Linked DNA regions of Homo sapiens. The protein of the gene in region 6 interacts with the protein of the main gene of each other region in a pairwise test. Each region holds a gene or a part of one and is shown on either strand. Other genes may lie near its edges.

Region 1 (2,929 bases), on a different chromosome or scaffold from region 6:
AGGCTGCAGTAAGCCGTGATCACACTGCTGCACTCCAGCCTGGGTGACACAGCAAGACTCCATCTCAAAAAGAAAAAAAGAGAGAGAGAAAAAAAAGGGGCTGTTGGCATCTTTGAAGAAGGGACTGGGGGAGCCCTACTTCAGAGCCAGTCAGTGGGGAGCAGCTACATCCTTCAAAAGGAATAGCAGGTGGTGTCCCCCAGCCTGGCTGACCTGAAGGTGTAGTAGAGAGCACAAGGGGTGCAGTCCTGGAACTGGGGCCTAACGAGAGGTATTTGTGGTTCCCCAACAAAAGCCCTGTCCAGCCCTCCCTGCCCCATACACTGCATACAGACATCAAGGCCAGGTGGCTCTGGGAACAGAAGTGGGCGCGAGGCCCTGGGGAAAGTCTGGCTGGGTAGAAGGTCAGTATAGTCCATCTCAGGGTGACAGGTTGTATCACAGGGCCCCAGGGGCCCCACAGGAGACCTGGCAGTCAAGACAACAGGGGCCAGCTTGGCTTGTGTGTGAATCTCTTTATTGTTTCTCTCCAGAGCCCCTGCAGCAGGGGAGGGGAGGGCGTGGGGAGGTGGGCGCCCCTCCCACCAGCCTGAGACCGCTCTCTGCCTCTCTCCTCTCCTCTCTTCTCCAGCATCTCACCCACTTTCTCTCCTTCTCAATCTCCTGCTCCCACCTCCAGCACCTTCGGGGATTCCCTCTTGTAGCCCCTGCTTTCTAAGTCCACCCTGGGCTGGGGAAAGGAAAGTAAGAGACCACGGGGACAATTTCAAGCCCCCCAGTCTCCACAGGGGCTAGTCCCCCTGGCTACCTGCCTGGCTTTCTCTCTCCTGGGCTAGGGGCTGGGGAGGTCTGCGGGGCTCAGTCCTGGCCCTGCAGTATCCCAACACCCTGCTCTGGGGCTGTCTCCAGAGCCAAAGGCTAGTGCCTGAGGTCACAGAGGTGGGAGGGACAGGGCCACCGCTCCCGCCTGGGCTCCATCCAGCACAAGAGCCAGGCTCACTCACTGCCAACAGCCAAGGCTCACAGCTGGGGTCCGCAGAGGTGGCCGGGGCATGCCCTGTGACCAGGCAGGGATGGGCTATGTCGCTGTTGGGGACCACGAGGGATGGCCAGTGAGGAGGGGTCAGAGGCTGTGAGGGGAGGACTGAGGCTGGGTGTGGTGTCCTGGGATGGAAGAAGGCTGGCTTCAGGGAGCAGTGAGGACAGGGGTGAGGACGGTCTCTGGTGGCAGAGGGTCTCTGTCTTTAGAGCACTTCATGCTGCTGCTGTGTGGCCTCACTGACGACCTGGGGAGGAAGAGAAGCCCAGTCCAACCATGTGCTAGCCAGAGAATGGAGCCTCAGCCCTGAGCCATCCCCACCCCAGGGCCGCAGGATCTCTCTTGCCCCACTAGCCAGGGACCTAGACCAGCACAGCTGGGTGGAAGACAGTCCCCCCAGACACATCCATAGCCCCCACCAAGGGTAAGGAGCCCAGACAGACCACTTACCTCCCCATCCCGTGTCTCGATGGTCTTGATCATCACCGTCTTCTTGGTATGGACCTCAGAACCCCTTTGCTCAGGGCTGGTTTCTGTAACAGGGTCCATCGCACACTCAGCCTGACCAAGTCCAGGCTGGGCTATACCAGGGGCTGGGAGTCCATCTGGGGCCACATTGGGCAGAGCCCTAGCAGACCCCAACCCCCCTCAAGACAGGCTTGTTACTTCTTCAAGACTTTAACACCTTTCCTTCAGCCCAGCACCCAGCAGGTGGTTCTGCAGTCCCCAGCGCCTGTCCCATAGTTTAGATGGTCTCAGGAGCCAACAGATTTGCTCCATGTGCAGGATGGTGCAGGAGGGTAGGGGACACCTGAGGCCCAGGCTGCACAGCACTGACATTCCCCATCCCTCCTAGTTCCTCTCCACCCCCAGGCCCCAGGAGAGCCCTGCACACATTTGTCTCCTGGGACTCCCCTTCTTCAAGATAGAACCCCAAAGCCCAGTCTCAAGACACTCTTTAGAGGACCTTACAGTACCTATCTCCCTTTAAGATTTCAGGGCCAGGTGCGGTGGCTCACATCTGTAATCCCAGTAGTTTGGGAGACCGAGGCAGGTGGATCATGAGGCCAGGAGTTCCAGACCACCCTGACCAACATGGTGAAACCCCGTCTCTACTAAAAATACAAAAATTAGGGGGGCGTGGTGGCACATGCCTGTAATCCCAGCTACTCAGGAGGCTGAGGCAGGAGAATTGCTTGAACCTGGGAGGCGGAGGTTGCGGTGAGCCGAGATTGCACCACTGCACTCCAGCCTGGGCGACAGAGCGAGACTCCGTTTCAAAAGAAAAAAAAAATTCAGATGAGCAACTTGATGTCTTAAAGTGAGACAGAGCAGGAATAAGGCACTGACTCATTGTGCTGATGCTCAGTCACTTGCCATTCTGTGCCTCAGTTTCCTCACTGAGGACACGGAGTGAAGTGGTACCAACCTTATCATGGCCACAAAGCTATTGATTTGGAAAAGCACTGTGCAATGTGGGTGGAGTTTTTTGTACTATGAAGTTTTAAATGCAAGACTCATACTTGGTGTCTGTATAAACAACTAACTGAAAAGAGAGGCTCTGAGTTGTGTAGGAAAGGTCAAATGGAGGTCCTTGGTATTATGAGTTTGGTGCTTACGAATTTCCTTAGCTAGCAACCAGCCTGTGATGAATGTTGTGACTCGCTGGAGCGCAGCGTGTTTTTTTTCCTGATGGAAATGTACATCGAAGATAGAAAAGGTTTGATCTAGGAAAGGAGAAGCTGCCAAGGACTCCGACTTGCTTTCCTAATGCATCATTATCGTGTGTTTCTCTGCTCTCTGGGGTTGGAAAGCCACCCGATCTGCGTATTACTAATGTCAAAATGGCAGAGTGCCCTAAGAGCTCGTTCTTTTCATTGTTTGGCTTTG
Region 2 (3,500 bases), on a different chromosome or scaffold from region 6:
GCTGGGATTACAGACGTACATCACGAGGTCTGCCTAATTTTTTTGTATTTTTTTAGTAGAGACAGGGTTTCACCATGTTGGCCAGACTAGTCTCGAACTCCAGACCTCAAATGATCTGCCCGCCTTGGCCTCCCAAAGTGCTGGGATTTCAGGCAACAGCCGTCGCGCCTGGCCTTTGCCCATTTTTTGAGTTATTTGCTTTCTTGTTACTGAGTTACTTGAGTTCACATATTTTGGATATTAACCCCTTTTCAGATGTATGGTTTGCAAATATTTTCTCCCATTCTGTATGTCATCTCTGTTGATTGTTGCCATTGCTGTGCAGAAGCTTTTCAGTTTGATGCAACTTCATTTGTCTATTTTAGCTTTTGTTGCCTGTGCTTTCTGGGTCATAGCCAAAAAACCATTGCCCAGACAAGTGTCGTTAAGCTTTCTTTTGTGTGTGTGTGTGTGTGTGGTGTGTGTGTGTGTATGTGTCTGTGTGTGTGTGGCAGAGTCTCAATCTGTCACCCAGGCTGGAATGCAGTGGCTCAATCATGGCTCACTGCAGTCTTGACTTCCTGGGCTCAGGTGATTCTCCCACCTTAACCTCCCGAGTAGCTAGGACTACAGGTCTGGTCCACCATGCCTGGCTAATTTTTTGTATGTTCAGTACAGATGGGGTTTAAGGCTGAAGAATGCCATTGTATATATAGACCACCTTTTATACACAATATATACACAATATATACCATTGTGTATATATACCATGTTGCTCAAGCTGGTCTCAAACTCCTGGGCTCAAGCGATCCACCTGCATCAGCCCCAAAGTGCTGGGGTTACAGGTGTGAGCCACCATGCCTGGCCTTTTTTTTTGGCTCAAGATTGCTTTTGCTGTTTGGAGTATTTTGTGGTTCTATATTAATTTAAAATTGTTTTTTCTATTTCTGTGAAAAATGTCATTGGAATTTTGATAGGCTTGCATTGAATCTGTAAATTGCTTTGGATAATATGGACATTTTAACAATATTAATTCTTCCAAAGCACCCTTCATTTCTTTTTTCTTTCTTTCTTTTTTTTTTTTTTTTTGAGATGGAGTTTTGCTCTTGTTGCCCAGGCTGGAGTACAATGGCGTGGTCTCGGCTCACTACAACCTCTGCTTCCCTGGTTCAAACAATTCTCCCACCTCAGCCTACTGAGTGGCTGGGATTACAGGCATATGCCACCACGCCTGGCTAATTTTGGCATTTTTAGTAGAAACAGGGTTTCACCATGATGACCAAGCTGGTCTCAAACTCCTGACCTCAGGTGATCCGCCTGCCTCCACCTCCCAAAGTGCTGGGATTACAGGCATGAACCACCGTGCCTGGCCTGGAAGCAGGAGACTTCTAGAAAGAGTAGGGAAAGGCCTTGAGCTGGGACCGAGGGCTGAGCCTCCAGGGCAGTCTCTGTCATGGACTTCCATGACAAACCCTACTCCCAGGACACTGGCTCTGGACACTGCAGCCCCTCCCCACAGGCTTCCATATTCCCTTATCCAGCCCCTGGCCCTCCGTGAGGCTCCTGCTGCCCGTGAACCTCTCATTCCCCTTCCCTTTCTCACCCAAGGAGCCTGCTGCAGGCCTGGGAGCGGCAGCGGCAGGAGGAGCGGCAGCAGGCCGAGCTGCGGCGGGCCCGGACACAGCATGTACAGCGGCAGGTGGCCCACTGCCTGGCAGCCTACGCACCCAGAGGGAGCCGGGGCCCTGGGGCGGCCCAGCGCAAGCTGGAGGAGCTGAGGTAGGGAGCCTGGGCTTCGGGAGGCCTGGTTGGGAGAGGGCAGGGAGGCCGTGTCAGGTCTCAGTCTACAGGACCGAGGAGCACCAGCCCTCGCCTTCCCTGGGGCTAACCAGGCCACTTCACCGCGTTTCCAGATAAGGACGCTGAGGCATGGGGAGAAGGGGTCTGTCGAAGGCCACCCAGTTAATAATGACAATCTCTGCAGCTGTTGAATGGTCAAGGTTAAAATATTCTACATGTATGATCACACTTTCAAATCTTCATTTTCTGATTTCCAATGCCAGACATGCTTGTTATAAAATTTCAAAGATTACAGAAATAATGCCTGGAGAAGGTGAACAGCCGTGTGACCCCACTCTGGGAGACAACCATTGTTCACAGTCAGCTGAAGAGTCGCGTTTTGTTCTCTTCCTATATTGTGACCATTTTCCTTTTTTTTTTTTTTTGAGACGGAGTCTCGCTCTGTCGCCCAGGCTGGAGTGCAGTGGCGCGATCTCGGCTCACTGCAATCTCCGCCTCCCAGCTTCACGCCATTCTCCTGCCTCAGTCTCCCGAGTAGCTGAGACTACAGGCGCCCGCCACCACGCCCGGCTAATTTTTTTTTTTTTTTGTATTTTTAGTAGAGACGGGGTTTCACCGTGTTAGCCAGGATAGTCTCGATCTCCTGACCTCGTGATCCACCCGCCTCAGCCTCCCAAAGTGCTGGGATTACAGGTGTGAGACACTGCACCTGGCCGTGACCATTTTCCTAATAAGCAGATTTGTGGGCAAACGTTTTTGGACTCCTAACAGGTCCGTGAAGCAGGGAGTATTGCTGCTGGTGGGCCAGGTCAGGTTCTTCCCTTGGCCGCACAAAAGAAAAAGTTTATTGCAAAGCAAAGGCCACCCTGACCAACATGGTGAAACCTCATCTCTACTAAAAATACAAAAAGTAGCCAGGTGCGGTGGCACATACCTGTAATCCTAGCTATTCGGGAGGCTGAGGCAGGAGAATTGCTTGAACCCGGGAGATGGAGGTTGCAGTGAGCCGAAATTGAGCCACTACACTCCAGCCTGGGCGACAGAGCAAAAACTCCATCTCAAAAAAAAAAAAAAAAGCCCACCCTGAGGACTGCTCAGAGGGAGAGACGGCAGCTTGTGCCTTAAGAGGAATTCCTTTTATGGAAGTTGTTTATACCTAGTCACAAAATACTGGTGAGGTCAGGTATGCAAAGGTGGACCTGTGGTGGGCGCATGCGCTCAGCATCTGCATGCTCCAACACGCATCACATGTAACATTAGCATATACAATCTCTACCTAGGGGTGTGTTTTTTTACCATCAAAACGAGGAAAATGTTGCTATAAGCTAAACCTTGAGCCTAGCTGTGTATGCGGAACCCCGAGAAGTCCTTAGCTCCCTCCAAGGCAGGAATTTGTAGCTAATAGCTTCTTGGGCTTTTGGTGCTGATTGGCTGGAGATCGGGGAAGCTACATTATGAATAAGGGGCTTTTGTTTTTTTTTTCCTGGGCTGTGCTAGGTATGAGGGAACTTGTAGCCATCTGGTATCCCCTAAGACTGCTTATCTTGCAAAAGAGTTAGGTACTCGGCTGTACGCCGTGGCTCACACCTGTAATCCCAACACTTTGGGAAGCCGAGGTAAGTGGATCACCTGAGGTCAGGATTTCGAGACCAGCCTGGCCAACGTAATGAAACCCCGTCTATACTAAAAAATATATATACAAAAATTAGCTGGGCGTAGTG
Region 3 (3,500 bases), on a different chromosome or scaffold from region 6:
CTGTGGGTGTCTGTGTGCTGGAGGATTGCCCACAGCTATGATTCAGAGATGCTCATGTTGTTGCCCAAGCAATTGACAGATGATGTTTCAGGCTTGGAGATGGCAGGATGGGAGCAAAGAGAAGCCAGGTCAGGAAAGAACGTGCCGTTCTGGCCCTAGTGGGGAATTCTGGGCCTTCTGGCTCACCCAGTTGAACCTTTCAAACTGTAGGTTATGACCCTTTAGTAACTGTGAAATTAATTTAATGCATCAGGATCAGCATATAAAAAACAAGTTAACTGTAATCTCAGCACTTTGGGAGGCCGAGGTGGGAGAATCACCTGAGGTCAGGAGTTTGAGACCAGCCTGGCCAACATGGTGAAACCCCAATTCCTACTAAAAAAATACAAAAATTAGCTAGGTGTGGTGGCATGTGACTGTAATCCCAGCTACTCGGGAGGCTGAGGCACAAGAATTGCTTGAGCCCAGGAGGGAGAGGTTGCAGTGAGCTGAGATTGCGCCACTGCACTCCAGTGGGGGCGACAGAGTGAGACTCTGTCTCAAAAAACAAGTTAAACAGAATGGAATTCAATAGAAAAGATTAGAATTAATATCGTACATCCTTACAATGAACTATACACATGGCAAGATATTTTAGTTTCAGAGACATACATACTATTTAAGTATGTTCTTCACTACAATGTGAAATATATAGCTTACTGGTGGGTCATCATCCAAACAGTTTGTAGTTGCACTGTTGCGCTTTGTTCTCCTAGAAAATACCTCTAGCCTTTCTTCCCTTCATGGAGGAAAGGTGTTTTTCAGGTGCAGACTGACAGACTTTAGGAAGTTTTTACACGGGGTTATGAAGGAAAGGGATTGCTCTAGGTCTCAGGGAGGTAGGGCTGCTGCAGGGACCCAGACGGGTTTTCAGCGAGGTTGGCAGTAGGTATTCAGCTATATAGAAGTGGAAGTCAAGGACTTTCCAATTCCAGGGGCTCATTTTGATGCTGAAATGGGGGCGGGGCATGAGTCCTAAGTCCAATTTGGCTATGGGACATTATGACTGTGATGCTATGGGCAGGATGATCTGTGGATATTAGATTTTCTTAAAGAGTGGTGTGAAAGAAAGGGTCATATATTGGATATGGGGTCAGAACTGAACTTTAGTTCATCATAATAGCTGTCCTTTGATTACAACTGTGCTTCCAGTGTGACCTTGGGCTCTACCGTGGTTTTCTCTTTTGTAAAATAAGGGTCTTGCCGTTGATTCCAAATGGGAATATTTTGGTAAATGTTCCATGTTTACCTGAAAATAATTCATGTTGAGTGCAGTGATCCGTCTATCTAGTCTGGTTTATTATTCATATTGATCAGATTTTTAAGTGATTTTGGTTTGCTTATTCAATAAGCTATCGAGAGAGGCATTAAAAAGTCTGCTATGATTGTGGATTTACCTACTTTTAGTCTATTGACTTGTGCTTTATATGGTTTGAAGCTATGTTATTTGTTGCCTACAGATTCAGAATTCTTTTTTTTTGTTTGAGACAGAGTCTTGCTCTGTCGCCCAGGCTGGAGTGCAGTGGCACAATCTTGGCTCACTGCAACTTCTGCCTCCTGGGTTCAAGTGATTCTCCTGCCTCAGCCTCCCGAGTAGCTGAGACTACACGTGCGTGATAAGTCTCGATCTCCTGACCTCATGATCCGCCCGCCTCGGCCTCCTAAAGTGCTAGGATTACAGGCGTGAGCCACCGCGCCCGGCCAGATTTAGAATTCTTCTTATATCCTCCTAGGGATTGACCCTTCATTCTTATGTTATGCCTCTTTTCATCTCTGTGAAAGTCCTCATTGTCTGATATTACTATAGCTACATTCCAGCTTTGTTTTGGGTAATGTTTGCATGTTACCTTTTTTTTTTCCCCTGTACTTTCAACTTTTAAAATGTCCTTATGTTTAATGCATATCTATGAGCAGCATATATAGTTGGTTTTTTGTGTGTTTTAAGTGTAGACTGATAATCTTACAATGAGAATATTTAGTCCATTTACATTTAAATGCAATTGTGGATGTATTGGAGTTTATATCTACTACCTTAGTTTTTGTTTGTTTACTATTTGACCTGTCTGTTATGTCCCCCTTTTTCTCACCTGTTTTGCCTTCTTTTAAATTAATCAAGGACTTAAAATTATAGTCATGCGTCTCTCTTTTTTTTTGGAGACAGTCTCGCTCGGTCACCCAGGCTGGAGTGCAGCGGCGTGATCTCGGCTCACAGCAACCTCAGGCAATTCCCATGCCTCAGCCACTCGAATAGCTGGAATTACAGGTGTGTGCTGCCATGCCCGGCTAATTTTTGTAGTTTTAGCGGAGACAGGGTTTTGCCATGTTGGCCAGGCTGTTCTTGAACTCCTGGCCTCAAGTGATCCACCTGCCTCAACCTTCCAAAGTGCTGGGATTAAAGGCATGAGCCACCGCACCTGGCCCTCATGTGTGTCTTAACAAGGATTCAGTCCGAGAAATGTGTCGTTAGGCAGTTTCATCATTGTGTGAACATCATAGAGTGTACTTACACAAACCTAGATGGTATAGCCTGCTACATGCCTAGGCTGTATGGCATAGCCTGTTGCTCCTAGGCTACAAACCTTTACAACATGTTACTGTACTGAATACAGTAGATAACTGTAATACAACGGTATTTGTGTACCTAAACATAGAAAAGGTATAGTAAAAATATGATACAATCTATCACTGTCGTATATGCAGTCCGTTGACTGAAATGTTACATGATGCGTGACCGTGCATGTTCTCTCTTTGTTAGCTCTTATGTTTTACATTCCTTTACGGTTCTTTTGGTGATCACTCTTGAGATTACAGCACGCATCTTGACTTATTACAATATAAAAATAAGTGATTATTTTTACTACTTCTCCAATGATGCTAATACCTTAGAACACTTTTTAGATATTAAGATATATTAAACACCACAAGAATTATTTCTTTGTACAGCCCATATGAATTTAGATTTACCCACATATTTGCCCTTTTTTGTGTTTCTTTCTTCCTGCATTTCTATAATTTTATTTGGTATAATTTTCTTTTTCTCTGAGGAACTCTCCTCTCTCTTACAGTGTAGTCTGTTAATCATGAATTCTTTTAGTTTTTATTTATTTTTTATTGATTTATTTTTTGAGATGAAGTTTTGCTCTTGTCACCCAGGCTGGAGTGCAATGGCGTGATCTCGACTCACTGCAACCTCTGCCTCCCGGGTTCAGGTGATTCTCCTGCCTCAGCCTCCTGAGTAGCTGGGATTACAGGTGCATGCCACCACACCCAGCTAATTTTTGTATTTTTAGCAGAGATGGGGTTTTGCCATGTTGGCCAGGCTGATCTCGAACTCCTGACCTCAGGTGATCCACCCACCTCTGCCTCCCAAAGTGCTGGGATTACAGGCATGAGCCACCACACCCGACCTAGTTTTTATTTTTTTGAAAATGTCATTATAGCTGGGCACGGTGGCTCATGCC
Region 4 (3,500 bases), on a different chromosome or scaffold from region 6:
AAAAAAAGATAAAGATAAAATTATTTACAGCAGAATAGGTTTTACTAGCAAAATATTGGAAATGGCTATCTGTCCATCAACAGGAAAACAGTTAAATTATGGTACATCTACACAGTGAAGTACCATAAAGCTAAAAACGAAAGCACAAGGAAGCTATGTATGAAAGGGAAAGAGCACTGTGATAAAAAAACAGGGGAAGGGAGAATAACTAACACTCATTAGCATATGCATAAAGACACGAGAAGATTCTCAAGAAACCAGTAATAGTGCTTATGTCTGGGGGTGGGGTGTAAAGATGATGAACAGAGGCTGGAGTGGAAGACATTTTACTGCACTGTGTTCCTTTCTGCATTTTGTAATTTTAAGACTGTGTGAGTCTAGTATCTATTCAAAAAGTTAAATTAAAATGGAAGCAATTTAAAATGAGTAAGAAAAGAAATATGTGTTAAGTACTATACGGTGATATGGACCATATGGTCTCAGCATGGACCATAAAGAGTTAGTTATGTATGAGGGAGCAGGTCTAGAGCTGCTCTAATATGAGTGCCACTAGTCACAGGTGGCTCATTAAATTAAAATTAAATAAAATTAAATGTGCAGTTCCTTAATCACACCAGCATCCATTTGAAGTGCCAAATAGCCACATGTGGCTCATAGCTCCTGTAATGACAGCATAGATAGAAATTTTCACTGCTGCAGACAGTTCTATTATTACAGTGCTAATCTACAGAAAGGTCTAGAAGAGCCATCTGATGCTGTAGAAGGCCTTCGGGCAAGCAGAGGGAGCAGAGGGCTTAGTTACAAAAGGGCACAACGTCCCCAAGAGAAACTGTCTGGTGAGCCAAACTACGAGGTGTTTGGTGAAGGAAGGTAGTACACATGATGGACAGCCGAAAAAGTAGTCTGGGTCAAATAACACAGACTGTTCACAATCTGTAAAATGGAAACTCCAATTATGGAGGACCAAGAATCAGAAGAGTAAGACTGACTGCTTTCCACCTTCCCATTTATAAGTCAGCAGCCAAATTAATTATTTAGAAGTCAATTATGTAAGTTATAGGGGGAAAAAAACCCAACAACCTGATGGTTTATGGGTCCCCCATACTGTTTTGGTGGTAAAACGTTGATGTTCATTAGTTATTTCAATAGACGAGAGAGAGAGCGAAATGTAAAATGGGCCAAGGTAAGAAACCATTTAGTCTGGTTTCCCATCTTGGAGAGGAGTAACAAGAGCGCACAGGAGAGTGAAGTAGTTGTTCTCCATGGCACTGAACCAGATGCAGACACTCTCTATAATATCACTGTCTTTGCTTTCTATGTCTATAGTTAATACACATTTACACACTAAAGTATTCTCAGTCATCCAAAGATTCAATTTTAAATGTTTTACCCAATACATCATGGCAATGTGAAAAAGAACTCATTAACTAAATAGACTTTGCTTACTGTTCTCAGCTGCAACTCTAGGCGCAAGAGAGGCCACATGCACGCAGCACGCAGCGTTCAGGAGCTAACCAGCCCCAGTAGCCTTTCAAGGCAGCAATTAATCTTAATGGAGGTCAGTAACTACTGAGACTCTGTTACAGACACCCCACCCAGAGAAATGCACATGTGCACAGACACATAGCACCTTCAAACAGTGTCAGGAGGAACCGCACTTGGAGCAGACTACTAGGGATGACACAGGTGGACCCTGCTGTTAGTTCACTGCAAACATGGAGTAAGTGGCAGTGTTCCCTTCTCTGTAATAGACACCACAGTTGAAGAGTCATTTCTGTCACAAGCAGAATTCAAGACAAGAGCATTAAAATGCTTATGAAGAGTCTACTCTCATGGTAAAATTCTTATGTTAATGATGTTACATGAATAAAGCAGAATATTAAAGCCACATATTCCATATTTTATCACATTTAAGGTATCATTTGTAAGCTTAGTTGAGCTGAAAAAGGATAAATTTTGCCAATTAAACTATGACACAATTCTTTTTTTATCACATCACCTGTAAGATGCAATCAGATTTTTAAGATGCTAAAATTTAAGAAAAAGTGCATCTTAGTACTTATGATTGTGTCCATGTTAAGAAAACAATAACCACTAAACAATAGTTAATAAATGAAATTCCTAAAGGGGAAAAAATGCAGATTTTAAAAAATGCTATTCTTTCTTGGAGAAATAAGCCAGCAAAAATACATAAATAAATAAGTAAAAATTTTAAAAAAAGAAAAAAATGCTAAATGTTTACACTCAGAAGGAGAAAGAACACTAGCAAAGGAGTCAGGTGTGGTCAGAGAGAGGAGGAAAGCCAGGATAAAGCAGAACTACAAAATCCAGTGAAGGCTAACAGTTTAACAGTGACAACGTGCCTGTCACTATCTGAAGGCTTTTCATGTAGCCCTCAATGAATCCTCCACAGTTGTATGAAGTGGGTCCTATCATTACTCCCATTTTACAGACAAGGAAACATATCCACAGACAGGTTAGGTGAGCTGGCTCAATTAAAAAGGTGGTAAGCAAGGGAGTCAAAATTTGAATCCATGTAGTCTTGTACTCTGAGCCCACATTTTAACCACTATGCCCTGGCAGGGTCAGAAACTGTCTTTCCAAATCTTAAAGACCTTTCTTTCTGCTACGGCCTGGCATAGTGGCTCCCACCTGTAATTCCAGCACTTTGGGAGGCCAGGAGTTCGAGACCAGCCTGGCCAACATGGTGAAACCTGTCTTTACTAAAAACACAAAAATTAGCTGGGCGTGGTGGCACATGCCTGTAATCCCAGCTACTTTGGAGGCTGAGGCACGAGAATTGCTTGAACCTGGGAGGCGGAGGCTGCAGTGAGCTGAGACTGACATTGCACTCCAGCCTGGGTGACACAGTCAGACTGTCTTTAAAAAAAAAAAAAGACCTTTCTGACAAGATCACTGGTGATAACTAATAAATGTGATTTTTTTTAAACACTGAAGAAATAAAATGAATCTGCATAGCCCAGTGAACTACTATTTTCTAAAGAACCAGTGCCTGATGTAACCAAATCATGCATGAGTAAGAGATCCATTTGAGGTGCAAGGCAGATTAATGAATTTTCACCTAACAAGAGTACGAAAAGTTTACTGTTACCGTTTCAGATTCCAGATGGCAAATAATCTTTGACTGACTACCACTTGTTCAGTTTGGGTGTAGTATCAAAGGTAGAACATTCACAAAACAAACTCCTTCCTTTCCAACTACCTATCTGTGTGGTCAGATTTGCTTCAATTACAACAACAACTCATGATAGATTTAACGCAGAAAAAAGATATGAGAATCTTCTAGCTGTTATCGATTAAGCGGGGCATTAAAGAGATTTGCAAAAATGTAAAACAAAGACATTCCTCATTAAAATTTTGTTTTAGAAAATAGTTATTGTTCATAAAAATGTTACTTACAGTAACACGTGATAGGTTTTTTTTTGTTTTGTTTTGTTTTGTTTTGAGACAGAGTCTTACTCTGTCCCCCAGGCTGGAGT
Region 5 (3,500 bases), on a different chromosome or scaffold from region 6:
AGAAATTCCAGATTTGGGGATACAAGCCTTAGTAGAAAGTGGAGGCAAAACATATGGCTGAAAAGAGGAGATCAAGTGAAAATATGCATACCGAATGGGACGGCCCTCTCAGCCTGTTCCCCTGCCTTGCTCCCAGAATGTCAGCAACCAAGGGTCTATCCCCCAGAAAAGAGAACAGAGACATTACATAGTCCTAAAGACCTCCAGATGACAATCGTCACACAGTAGGACTTCCCAAGTGGCAGCCCCAGCCATGCACACAGAGCTGTCCGTTGGAATTGTAGCTTCTCACCCTAGATCATGAAAGGCTAGCCAAGTGTCACCACATATAAAGAGGAACGTTCTGCTGTGAAAGAGGCTGTAGCAAACAAAAAGGAAACTTGGATAATTCACAATGTTAAAACAGAAAAAATTTTTAAATACTAGAATTAATGTTCTCAGAGAGACAACTGAAGATACTGCATCTGTAATGCAAGAAGAGGAAGCTCTATAAAAAAAAATCAGAGACCACCACCAGTGTGATTGAGACAGACAGAAACGGAATGCTCAATGACTGTGTTATTTTAATGACAAATGGAAGGAAACACACAACAAAATAATAACCCTGTGTATGATTATTTCTTCTATTTTATATCATTTTTTTTTTTGGATTGTTATGATTGTGTCCCAGATGGGCTCTCTAAAAAGTTGGTCACTTTGGGGAAAGAGATAACTGAAGAAATTTTCCCAGAAGTGGCAGGCCCAGGTTTTGAGAATGAAAGGGTGCAGTATGTGTCTAGTATGATGAATGAAAAAAGACCTGAACCAAAGTATGTCACTGAAAAGTTTCAGAATACCATAAAGAAAGAAGACTCCAAAGGCTTCTCGCGAGAGAAAAAAAAAAGGTCATAAACAAAAGCTTGGAGATCAGGGTGACATTAAACTTTTCAGTAACAACAGTGGAAGCTGAGGATATTAATTATATATTGAAGTTATTTTTAAAAACTTTTCTGTTTTCAACATTTCTCTGAATTTAGAGAGAGAATGACACAGGATTCCTATCCGGGCAAACTATTAGTCAAAAGATCAAATTTACAGGTACAATAAGGACATCTTCAGACATGTAAGGGCTGAAAAATGAATCTCTTTTATATTGTTTTTCAGGAAGGCATTAGAAAATATACTCCAGCATACTGAGGAAGTACTCCAAGAAAAACGACCCAAGATATAGGAGATTTAAAACTTAAGTGAGCAAAGGAAAGACCCATGATGACAGCTGTACAGCAGATCTACCAGACTGAAGCTGGAGAGAGGGAGCTTGGAATATTGGCAGGAAAAAAGAGAAATGGATGGTTTTTTTTTTTTTTTTTTGAAATGGAGTCTTGCTCTGTCACCCAGGCTGTAGTGCAGTGGCGTGATCTCGGCTCACTGCAAGCTCCGCCTCCCGGGTTCACGCCATTCTCCTGCCTCAGCCTCCCAAGTAGCTGGGACTACAGGCGTCTGCCACCATGCCCAGCTAATTTTTTTGTATTTTTAGTAGAGATGGGGTTTCACCGTGTTAGCCAGGATGGTCTCGATCTCCTGGCCTTGTGATCCACCCGTCTCGGCCTCCCAAAGTGCTGGGACTACTGGCGTGAGCCACCGTGCCCAGCTGAGAAATGGATGGATTTTTAAATTTTATTTTACTATTTGGAGATATCACAGACATATGACACATACGATAGAATAGCTAAGGGAAAATTAAAGATCCTTACACAGTGATACTAACAAAATGAAAAAAAAAAAGCAAAAGCAATGATTACTTCTAGAAGAAAAAGCTTTACAAGAAAAACAGCCCTTTATATTAGTGCCATCTGTATCTGTGGGCTCTGCATCTGTGGATTCAAACAACTGTGGATCAAAAATATTTGGAAAAAATTGTGCTTGTACCGAATGTATATGGACTTTTTTCTTGTCATTATAAATAATCTAGAAATGATTTAAAGTACACAAGAGGATGTGTATAAGTTACATGCAAATACTACAACATTTTACATCAGGGACTTGAACATCCACAGATTTTGGCACGTGCAAGGGGTCCTGGAACCAATCCCTTGTGGATACGGAGGGGCAACTGTAATTATAATAATACGCTGTTTGGCTCAGCAGTGAACAATACTTACACTGTCACATGATATCAATACTGACAGTTACTGTAACCTAATTCATGACATAATTACAGAGAGGTAATGGGGGGATAGGAAAGGTAGAATGGGTGGTGTTTTCAAAGAACTCAATTCCCACTTCCTATAATGGGAAATCAGTTGACAATGACTATACATCAGGAAACAGCAGTATGAAAATATTATTTACAAGTATGAAGGTTAATATCAGAAAAGAGAAGTATTCTCTTCAGGTTGGAGCAAGGGGTTACTGTTTTTCATTACAAGTCTTTCAATACTAATTGAATTTAACATTGAGTATGTAATACTTCATTAAAAAATACGTGATACAGATTCCTAAATCCCACTTACAGAAACTCTCATTCAGTAAGTCTGAGGCTGCGTCCGGTAATCTGTAGTTTTAAATCCCTCAGGTGATCCTGATAGAGAGGCCTAGGAAAATGACACGGCTTTTTACAAATTAGGGGGAAAGTCAGGACTAGATTACCAGTCTCCTGATCCCACATTACTGTGTCCTCTACTCTATCTCAATTATCCATTGTATTCTCACTAGGCTTTAACAGATCCTCTTTAGAATTTTGGCCAAAATATAGAACATATTGGCAAATTTGGTGCAGATGCACTATATATTAATAGAGTCCATCTGTAAGCTGTGTTGCAAAGTAAAGCACTCAGGCAAGATTACAAACTGAAGAAGCTGGAAAACTATAGCAGTCTGAGGGACCCTTGAACTGGTGAAAATAATGTAAAAACTCAAATTTATTTTAGAGGTGAAGGTGGTGAGGAGTTAAGCAATAAAGATAATGTGGAGGAGTAAACAAATGAAATTCCCCATCTGGACAGAAGGCTGAGGAAGAGAGGAAGACTCTGAAGATTACCTTTGAATACGAATACTATGATCTGAGAATCCTTGAGTGTCAATCATCACATCTGCTTCATCCAGGACAAACACACGAATCTTAGTCAAATCAATCAATTTTAGTTTAAAACACCAATCTAGGACAGTCCCAGGAGTGCCAATTATAATCTGTTTAGTGATGTCGGTGCCTCTGGGAACTGGGGAGAAAAGGGTTTTAAGCACTCCTTCAGATGCAAACAACTCCAACAGGTCACAGTTCAGGGCAGTGCAATATAAAGCTCATAAGCAAAAATACAGTTTGTAATAATTTTCCAAGTGGAAACCCCGAGGGTCATTGTGGTTTTTGATTCTGCAGAATTTTTAGGATAAATTTCTGACTTTTTCTTAACTGTGAAAAATGGCACTTCCCCAAACAGAAAACAACCAAAATGTCCATCAATAGGTTACATTAAATAAATCATGAAATATTGGGCAGCTAGTCAAAGGAACAAACAGTATGA
Region 6 (3,500 bases):
AAAGTGCTGGGATTACAGGTATGAGCCACCACACCCAGCCTCATTTTTGTTTTTAGAAGCACTGGTCAGGACCAGAAAAAAAGCCTGTTTTCAACCTGTTTGCAGCCTGTTTTAGACCCTAACCCTTTCCTTGCTGTTGAAACAATTACTTATTTAACTTGAGCTTTGATAAAGCAAGGTAGCTTAGGAACGCAAATGTCTTGTGCTGGCAAACCAGGCTGGAGAGATAAAGTGCTTTTAAAAGGGAAAAGCAAACCTCCTCTCCCAACGCCCCTCTCCTTCCCTATGCCTGCCCTCCTCCATCATGCAAGACGACAAAGGTGCAATACCTTGTGCATTCTTCCCGAGGCCCCGTCCAGGGACGTAGCCCATCTTCTGAAGAAGCTTCTGTCCAATTCCTTTTGTGTGTCTTTCCCAGCTGCCGAAGTCCATGAAAGATTTGGTTCCTCCTGCAAAACCTTTCTGGCTGGGCTTAAAATTGCCACCCTGCAAAAAAGAAAAATCAAAGCTTAGTTAATGGAAAAACAAAATGAAGAAAAATCTAAGAAAGCTTGGCCAACAGGAAAATGGCCTAAGTTATACAGCACTATGAAAAGTGTCATATGAACCAAAAATGTGTGTGATAACGTGTCAGGAAGGAAGAGACTGCACTACACACTTCACAACTCACAGAAACCTGCCACCAAAAGGAGACACTCACGAAATTCATTCCAGATGAGTTTCTCCCTGGCTAGAAAATGCTTGGGCCACAATGACCTTTGAAGGATATTCCTAGGGTCACAATCCTGCAATAGAGACTACCGTTTTTAGCTTCCTTGGTCCAAAATCCTTAGGAAAGTCGTCCTGCTTAACAGGTTTCTCTTCGTCATCAGAATCTTCCAACTCTGCCTCCTCCGCTGCCCCTTTCTTGAGCCCTGCGCTGATGAAGTTGACTGGCGCAGAGTAGTCACGGGCCCTGTAGGCACAGAAACAAAGCCCCACCAGGTCGGTAAAGAACTCTTTTCTCTGCAGCGATCCTTTTGCAGAAACTACGTGCTTGAAGACTCCTTAGAGTGAATCTCATGGGAGGTTTTTTAAAAAAGTAACACATTTTTTAATGTGTCAAAAAATCCAAAGGACCCCAGATTTGGCTTCCTGTAGTCACATTTAACATTTTACCTGACATATCCCTCTACGGCTGAAGAGTTATCACATCAATGTAGGGTTGATTACAAATTCAAAATATGATGTGATAATACAATTTTCCTACATTTTAAAAAATTAATTTATCATAAAAAGCAATTGTTTTGAAAACTATTTCAAGTACAAAAATCCAACAGGAGCAGAAATTTTGATGGAAAATCATAAATAAAACCCATTGAAAGATTATATGAATGTAAAGCATGTAACAATTATATTAATCAAACTTAGAAAAAGCTCCTAGCCATTAAATTTATTTGAATGTGAAAATTTCCAGCCAGGGCAACATGGTGAGACTTCGTCTCTATAAAAAAAAAATAAATAAAAATTAGCCAGGCATGGTTGTGCAAGCCTGTGGTCCTAACTACATGGGAAGCTGAGATGGGAGGATTGCTTGAGCCCAGGAAGTTGAAGCTGCGGTGAACTATAATCATGTCACTGCACCCCAGCCTGGGCAAAAGAGTGAGACCTTATCTCCAAAAAAAAAAAAAAAAGAAAAGAAAATTACACTAAAGTCCCCTAAGAAATAAGAAATTAACTCTATAAAATGAAATATATTGATTTAAACTCTGACTGCTTCAAGTACTTACATTAAGCCATTAACCTCAGGTCTTTTTTGTATAAAATAAAATTGATATATTTGTACTGTGTGGTTTAAAAAAGAAAAAATTACAATAAAAAACCCTGGAGCCAGGTACAGCGGCTCATGCCCATAATCTCAGCACTTTGGGAGGCTTGAGGCCAGGAGTTCAAGACCAGCTGGGCCAACATAGCAAAATCCTATCTCTAATAAAAATACAAAAAACTAGCTGAGTGTGGTGGCACACGCCTGTAATCCCACGCCACTCAGGAGGCTGACGCATGAGAAACGCTTGAACCCAGGAGACAGAGGGTGCAGTGAGCTAAGGTCACGCCACTGCACACTCCAGCTTGGGTAATAGAGACTGTGTTTCAAAGAAAAAAAGAAAACCTGGGAATACAGCAAATAAAGGGATGCCTTGTAAAATGACCAACCTAGTAATTCAACACCCTCAGGGCAACAACAGAATTTAGGGAGTTTTTTCCTAAAATTGTAATATAACTTAGTGATTTAGATCCCAAACTCTAGAGTCAGATAGGTCCAGGTTCCAATTCTAGCTTAGCCTCTGCCTAGTTGTATGACCATTAGCCTCAGTCTCTTAATCTGTAAAATGGGGACAATAATGGTACCTTTCTCATAAGGAAAATTAATCCAGGTTTATGAAATAGCCAGGACAAGTAAGCAGCCAAGAGATGTTAGCTATTATTATTATCTTATGATTATGCAATTCTTGTTCCCTGATCTATTTGTCATCCACTTTCAGACTTCCTTGTGGATGAGAAGTTTGGACTAATCTCTATACTCTTTCTCCCCCAGCCTCCTTTGAAAAAGGCACATTCTCAGCTGGGTGTGGTGGCTCACGCCTGTAATCCCAGCACTTTCGGAGGCCGAGGCAGGCGGATGACAAGGTCAAGAGATCCTGGCCAACATGGTGAAACCCCGTCTCTACTAAAAATACAAAAATTAGCTGGGTGTGATGGCACATGCCTGTAGTCCCAGCTACTCGGGAGGCTGAGGCAGGAGAATCACTTGAATCCAGGAGGCAGAGGTTGCAGTGAGCCAAGATTGCACCACTGTACTCCAGCCTGGCGACAGAGCAAGACTTCATCTCAAAAAAAAAAAAAAGAAAAAGAAAAAGGCACACTCTCAATAGGATAGAGCCTAGAGGCCACAGGTGAGGCCATGGAGGAAAAAACCCCCAACCTGGCACACCCTGGTTGAGTGAGGTTCAGCCAGGGCACACATAACCTTGTGCTGGGGAGAAGACGTGCAGCCTGAATCCTCATTGCCCACCACTATCCTAGACCAGTCCTCCACTACCTGTGCAGGGACCACTGGCTTGGCCTCCTCACAGTCTTCCACTGTGGCTCCATGCCTATTGAGCACACCAGCAAAAGGGTCTTCTCAAAACATAACCCAGCCCCACATCACACCCTCTCTATCACACACACTATGCTACCCTTCCCCCTCTCTGCTCCAGCCCCCAAGCCTTTCATATCCTTGTGGATACCGTGATGCTTCCCATCAAGGGCCTTTGCATATTGGGACCTCTTCTACCACCCTAGTTACCTTCTACTGTCAGTCATATCAGCTTAAGGGTCACTTTTCTCCACAGAAATCTTCCTTGACCTCTCAGAATAGATGAAATGCCCTAAAATGTGTTCTCCCTCATGTCCTCATGTCCCTCATGTCCTGCATCACAGTCACAAGTTTGATCGTCTGAGTTGTTAATGCCTATTTC
Region 7 (3,500 bases), on a different chromosome or scaffold from region 6:
TCACCATGTTAAGCCAGGCTGGTCTCAAACTCCTGACCTCAGGTGATCCGCCTCGGCCTCCCAAGGTGCTGGGATTACAGGCATGAGCCACCACACCCAGCCCAGGCTGGTATTTCTATGAAGTGTCTCTCCTATACTAGAAACCAGAAACTAGCTACAGTACTTAGCTTTGAGCCTCTTTCCCTTCACACCCTCTGGTGGAGGTGCTAACAAACAGTCACAAAGGCCAAATAACAAGCAGCAAGAGGAAAGTCTAGATATGAGTTCTTAGCAATTTTTGGTTTAACATCCTAACAACAAAATTGTTATTCCTCTTTTTTATTCCCTAATACTTACCTTCCAACTGAATTTAACCAAGTCTAACCTTAAGCTCTCCCCTTTTTAAAAAGGAATTAAAAGGTGAGGGACTCCATTAAGTTTGATGTCACTCAAGCAACTTTTTCCAAATAAGAGCAGAATCTGCTGTAATTAAAATTCAGAGTAAGATCTCATTTTGGATTCCTGGTTCAGGTTACAAGAACCAGAGTTTTTAAAATAACATTTAGATAAAACTGCACTCAATCTACCTCCACTTTGCATTTCCTGACCCTCAAAATCTTGGAAAGAAACTTTAATTCTAAAAAAATTACAGCCAGGAAAAAAAAGGGTAAGTTCACAGTCAGCAACAATAAAATACACAGCTAAATAATTTCCTGGTAGAGGGCTTTCAAATGTTAACACTGTGGAAGCAGCTTAAAATCTTGGAAAAGCAAGGCTTGCAGAAAGTAACATTTATTAAACAACTATTTTGCCGCATTGTGCTACTAAATGGGGAAGGTCTACTCTATTTAAAAGGTCTCTTCCACCTTAAAGGGACTCTTTGCATAAAGGTTTAAAATCTTCATATAAAATGTTTGATTTTTTTCTTTCAGACTGCCCAAACTCATTTGTTTTTGATTCATAAACATGAGCTGTGTTTTCTACTTTGGTCAAGTCAGTTTCCGCACTCTATTTTAGCTTTACCTTTATTCTACCAAAGACAAGAAAATGCTTAATAAAAAAAAATATATATTGCAGCTCTTTTTGGAGTCCAAGTATTTTGGTAAATCACACCTTTTGGCTTATTTTCTCCTATGTATTTTGTTCTACATCCTAAAAGGCACATGGCTTAAAAAAGAAACAAATAATAATAGTTACCCCCTGCCATACTAGTCATCTCCTATGACCCACAATCCTCCCCTCAATCTGCAAGTGACACCCAAGGATATCACTTACCTCCTATATCTTCTGATAGCCTTCAAACGCTGGTGAACTCTAGTACAGTGGATATTTGTCTTTTCTAATTCATACTGTCTTCTACAGCCATAGTGTGGTTCAACTGAGTTTTGATCTCACATTTCAGGGAATGGGAAGTACTGATGAGGGAAACTTATCTTGTCATATAAACTATTGTTCTGCACAACTTTTAGTATGCCCAGAGGTATATACGCAACTTATCAGCATAGAAACTGTAATTTAAACATACATCTTCAGAAGCAACATGAGAACTAAAAAAGTCTTAAAACAGACTTCCAAGAAACAGTTATGAAGTCCAATTTTAGGAAAAAGACATGATCCAAGTGTTCTTTGCACTGACACAGTAGGCAAGCCAGGTGTCTGGGGCCATTTTACTTAAGAACCTGCCCTGTACTCCTTTCTTAAGGTAAGTAAGTAAAGAGGCACTAAGGTAAAATACGCTTCCCAAGACATAGACTAATCAAATCACTCAAGGCAGGAACATTTAAAATGAAGAAAGAGTACAACGAAAGCTGCTTTAAAACTCTAAATAAGACAAGCAAGGGGCCAGGCCCGGTGGCTCACGCTTATAATCCTAGCACTTTGGGAGGCTGAGGTGGGTGGATCACCTGAGGTCCGGAGTTCAACACCAGCCTGGCCAACATGGCAAAACCCCATCTATACTAAAAATAGAAAAAAATTAGCCAGGCGTGGTGGTGGGCACCTGTAATGCCAGCTACGCAGGAGGCTGAGGTAGGAGAATCGCTAGAACCCTAGGGGTGGAGGTTGCAGTGAGCCAAGATCGCGCCACTGCACTCCAGCCTGGGCAACAGAGCAAAGATTGTCTCAAAAAAAAAAAAAAAAAAAAAAAAAAAAAAAAAAAGACAAGCAAGGTTATATGCTCCCGTTGCTCAACCTACTCAGGAGGCTAAGGCAGGAAGATCACTTGAGCCCCGGAGTTCAGGCACTCTAAACTGTAGCGCACAATGATTACATCTGTGCACGCCAACCTGGGAATCACAGCGAGACCCCGAGACCTCGTCTCTAAAATGAAAAAGAAACAAAATCTCTAAACCACTCAATAAGATTTACTCTGGGGCAATCAACAGACAACCACTTATTCAGTTTACCCTAGTCCCTCCCCTCTAAACTCAAGGAATGGAACGGAGAGGTCCTTTGTTGGGGGGTGGAGAGGGACAATAAAACTATATACATCTATCTAGCAAGAAAGTCGCTTATTTCTGTGTCTTAATGGACTCACCAAGAAGAAAAAAATAGCCCCTACCCATCTCCCCACAAGCTGAAAAAACATAAAAGGAATACGCATTACTCTTTAAACATGGCGTTTACTATGTTTAGAAAATCCAGTGTGGATTAGTTTGGTGTTTTATAGCACATTTTAAAAATTGCTTGTCTAGGCTAAGCGTAGTGGTTCATGCCTGTAATTCCGGCACTTCTGGGAGGCCGAGGCAGGTGGATCACTTGAGGTCAGGAGTTCGAGACCAGCCTGGCCAACATGGTGAAACCCCCGTCTCTACTAAAAATACAAAACTTAGCTGGGCATGGTGGCACACGCCTGTAGTCCCAATGGCACATGCCTGTAGTCCCTGCTACCCAGGCGGCTGAGGCACGAGAATCGCTTGAACCTGGGAGGCGGAGACTGCAATGAGCTGAGATAGCACCACTGCACTCCAGCATGGGCGACAGAACGAGACCCTGCCTCAAAAAAAAAAAAAAAAAAAATTGCTTGCCTGATATAACAAGGTAACTAAGCTTTACTCGCAAAGGGGCCTAATCAGAACCTCTCAATACTAAAATACCTTCTCAAACAACCACAACACCCCTATGTTTACAGAGTACACAAATCAGGTCATAACGAACAGAACAAACCTAAAACTTCTTATTCACTTTAAAATGCAATTAAAACCTGTGGTCAACTCAATCCTCTACAGAAGACGCAGAGACACTGGTTACAATGTAGCATTACTAGAGATGGAAGAGTAGCCTTAGTGACAGTGAAGAAAAAAGTTTAGTATAGTTACTTCACTTTCTTCTCACCTTGATATGAGTTCACAAGTGAACTAAGGCCTACTCATTTTCTAACTTCCAGAATTTTCCTCAACAGGAAACACTCACGTAACAAAGAGTGCTCTGCAGGTTTAACCAGAGAAATAACATGTGTAGGCAGGAAGAAAGAAAATCAGACAAAAATTTAACATCTCACGTTGGTAAAGCACCAAAGTCAA

Evidence for each region.
Region 1: the proteins of TFIP11 (region 6) and DES interact in binary tests that used the Homo sapiens proteins (3 or more experiments, as listed by UniProt).
Region 2: the proteins of TFIP11 (region 6) and TSGA10IP interact in binary tests that used the Homo sapiens proteins (3 or more experiments, as listed by UniProt).
Region 3: the proteins of TFIP11 (region 6) and COQ8A interact in binary tests that used the Homo sapiens proteins (3 or more experiments, as listed by UniProt).
Region 4: the proteins of TFIP11 (region 6) and LSM3 interact in binary tests that used the Homo sapiens proteins (3 or more experiments, as listed by UniProt).
Region 5: the proteins of TFIP11 (region 6) and DDX25 interact in binary tests that used the Homo sapiens proteins (3 or more experiments, as listed by UniProt).
Region 7: the proteins of TFIP11 (region 6) and KANSL1 interact in binary tests that used the Homo sapiens proteins (3 or more experiments, as listed by UniProt).

Annotation. Positions count from the first base shown.
Region 1 is NC_000002.12:219,424,306-219,427,234, reverse strand, and holds the end of DES (desmin), read right to left. Parts: intron 1,573-2,929; coding exon 1,490-1,572; intron 1,287-1,489; coding exon 1,245-1,286; 3' UTR 683-1,244; coding exon of another isoform or gene 656-682; 3' UTR 501-655; downstream 1-500. UniProt on the Homo sapiens protein: Muscle-specific type III intermediate filament essential for proper muscular structure and function.
Region 2 is NC_000011.10:65,951,980-65,955,479, forward strand, and holds part of TSGA10IP (testis-specific protein 10-interacting protein), read left to right. Parts: intron 1-1,587; coding exon 1,588-1,758; intron 1,759-3,500.
Region 3 is NC_000001.11:226,967,794-226,971,293, forward strand, and holds part of COQ8A (atypical kinase COQ8A, mitochondrial), read left to right. Parts: intron 1-3,500. UniProt on the Homo sapiens protein: Atypical kinase involved in the biosynthesis of coenzyme Q, also named ubiquinone, an essential lipid-soluble electron transporter for aerobic cellular respiration.
Region 4 is NC_000003.12:14,185,317-14,188,816, reverse strand, and holds part of LSM3 (U6 snRNA-associated Sm-like protein LSm3), read right to left. Parts: intron 1-3,500. UniProt on the Homo sapiens protein: Plays a role in pre-mRNA splicing as component of the U4/U6-U5 tri-snRNP complex that is involved in spliceosome assembly, and as component of the precatalytic spliceosome (spliceosome B complex).
Region 5 is NC_000011.10:125,911,008-125,914,507, reverse strand, and holds part of DDX25 (ATP-dependent RNA helicase DDX25), read right to left. Parts: intron 3,198-3,500; coding exon 3,020-3,197; intron 1-3,019. UniProt on the Homo sapiens protein: ATP-dependent RNA helicase. Required for mRNA export and translation regulation during spermatid development.
Region 6 is NC_000022.11:26,505,974-26,509,473, forward strand, and holds part of TFIP11 (tuftelin-interacting protein 11), read right to left. Parts: intron 956-3,500; coding exon 802-955; intron 487-801; coding exon 330-486; intron 1-329. UniProt on the Homo sapiens protein: Involved in pre-mRNA splicing, specifically in spliceosome disassembly during late-stage splicing events. Intron turnover seems to proceed through reactions in two lariat-intron associated complexes termed Intron Large (IL) and Intron Small (IS).
Region 7 is NC_000017.11:46,186,930-46,190,429, forward strand, and holds part of KANSL1 (KAT8 regulatory NSL complex subunit 1), read right to left. Parts: intron 1-3,500. UniProt on the Homo sapiens protein: Non-catalytic component of the NSL histone acetyltransferase complex, a multiprotein complex that mediates histone H4 acetylation at 'Lys-5'- and 'Lys-8' (H4K5ac and H4K8ac) at transcription start sites and promotes transcription initiation.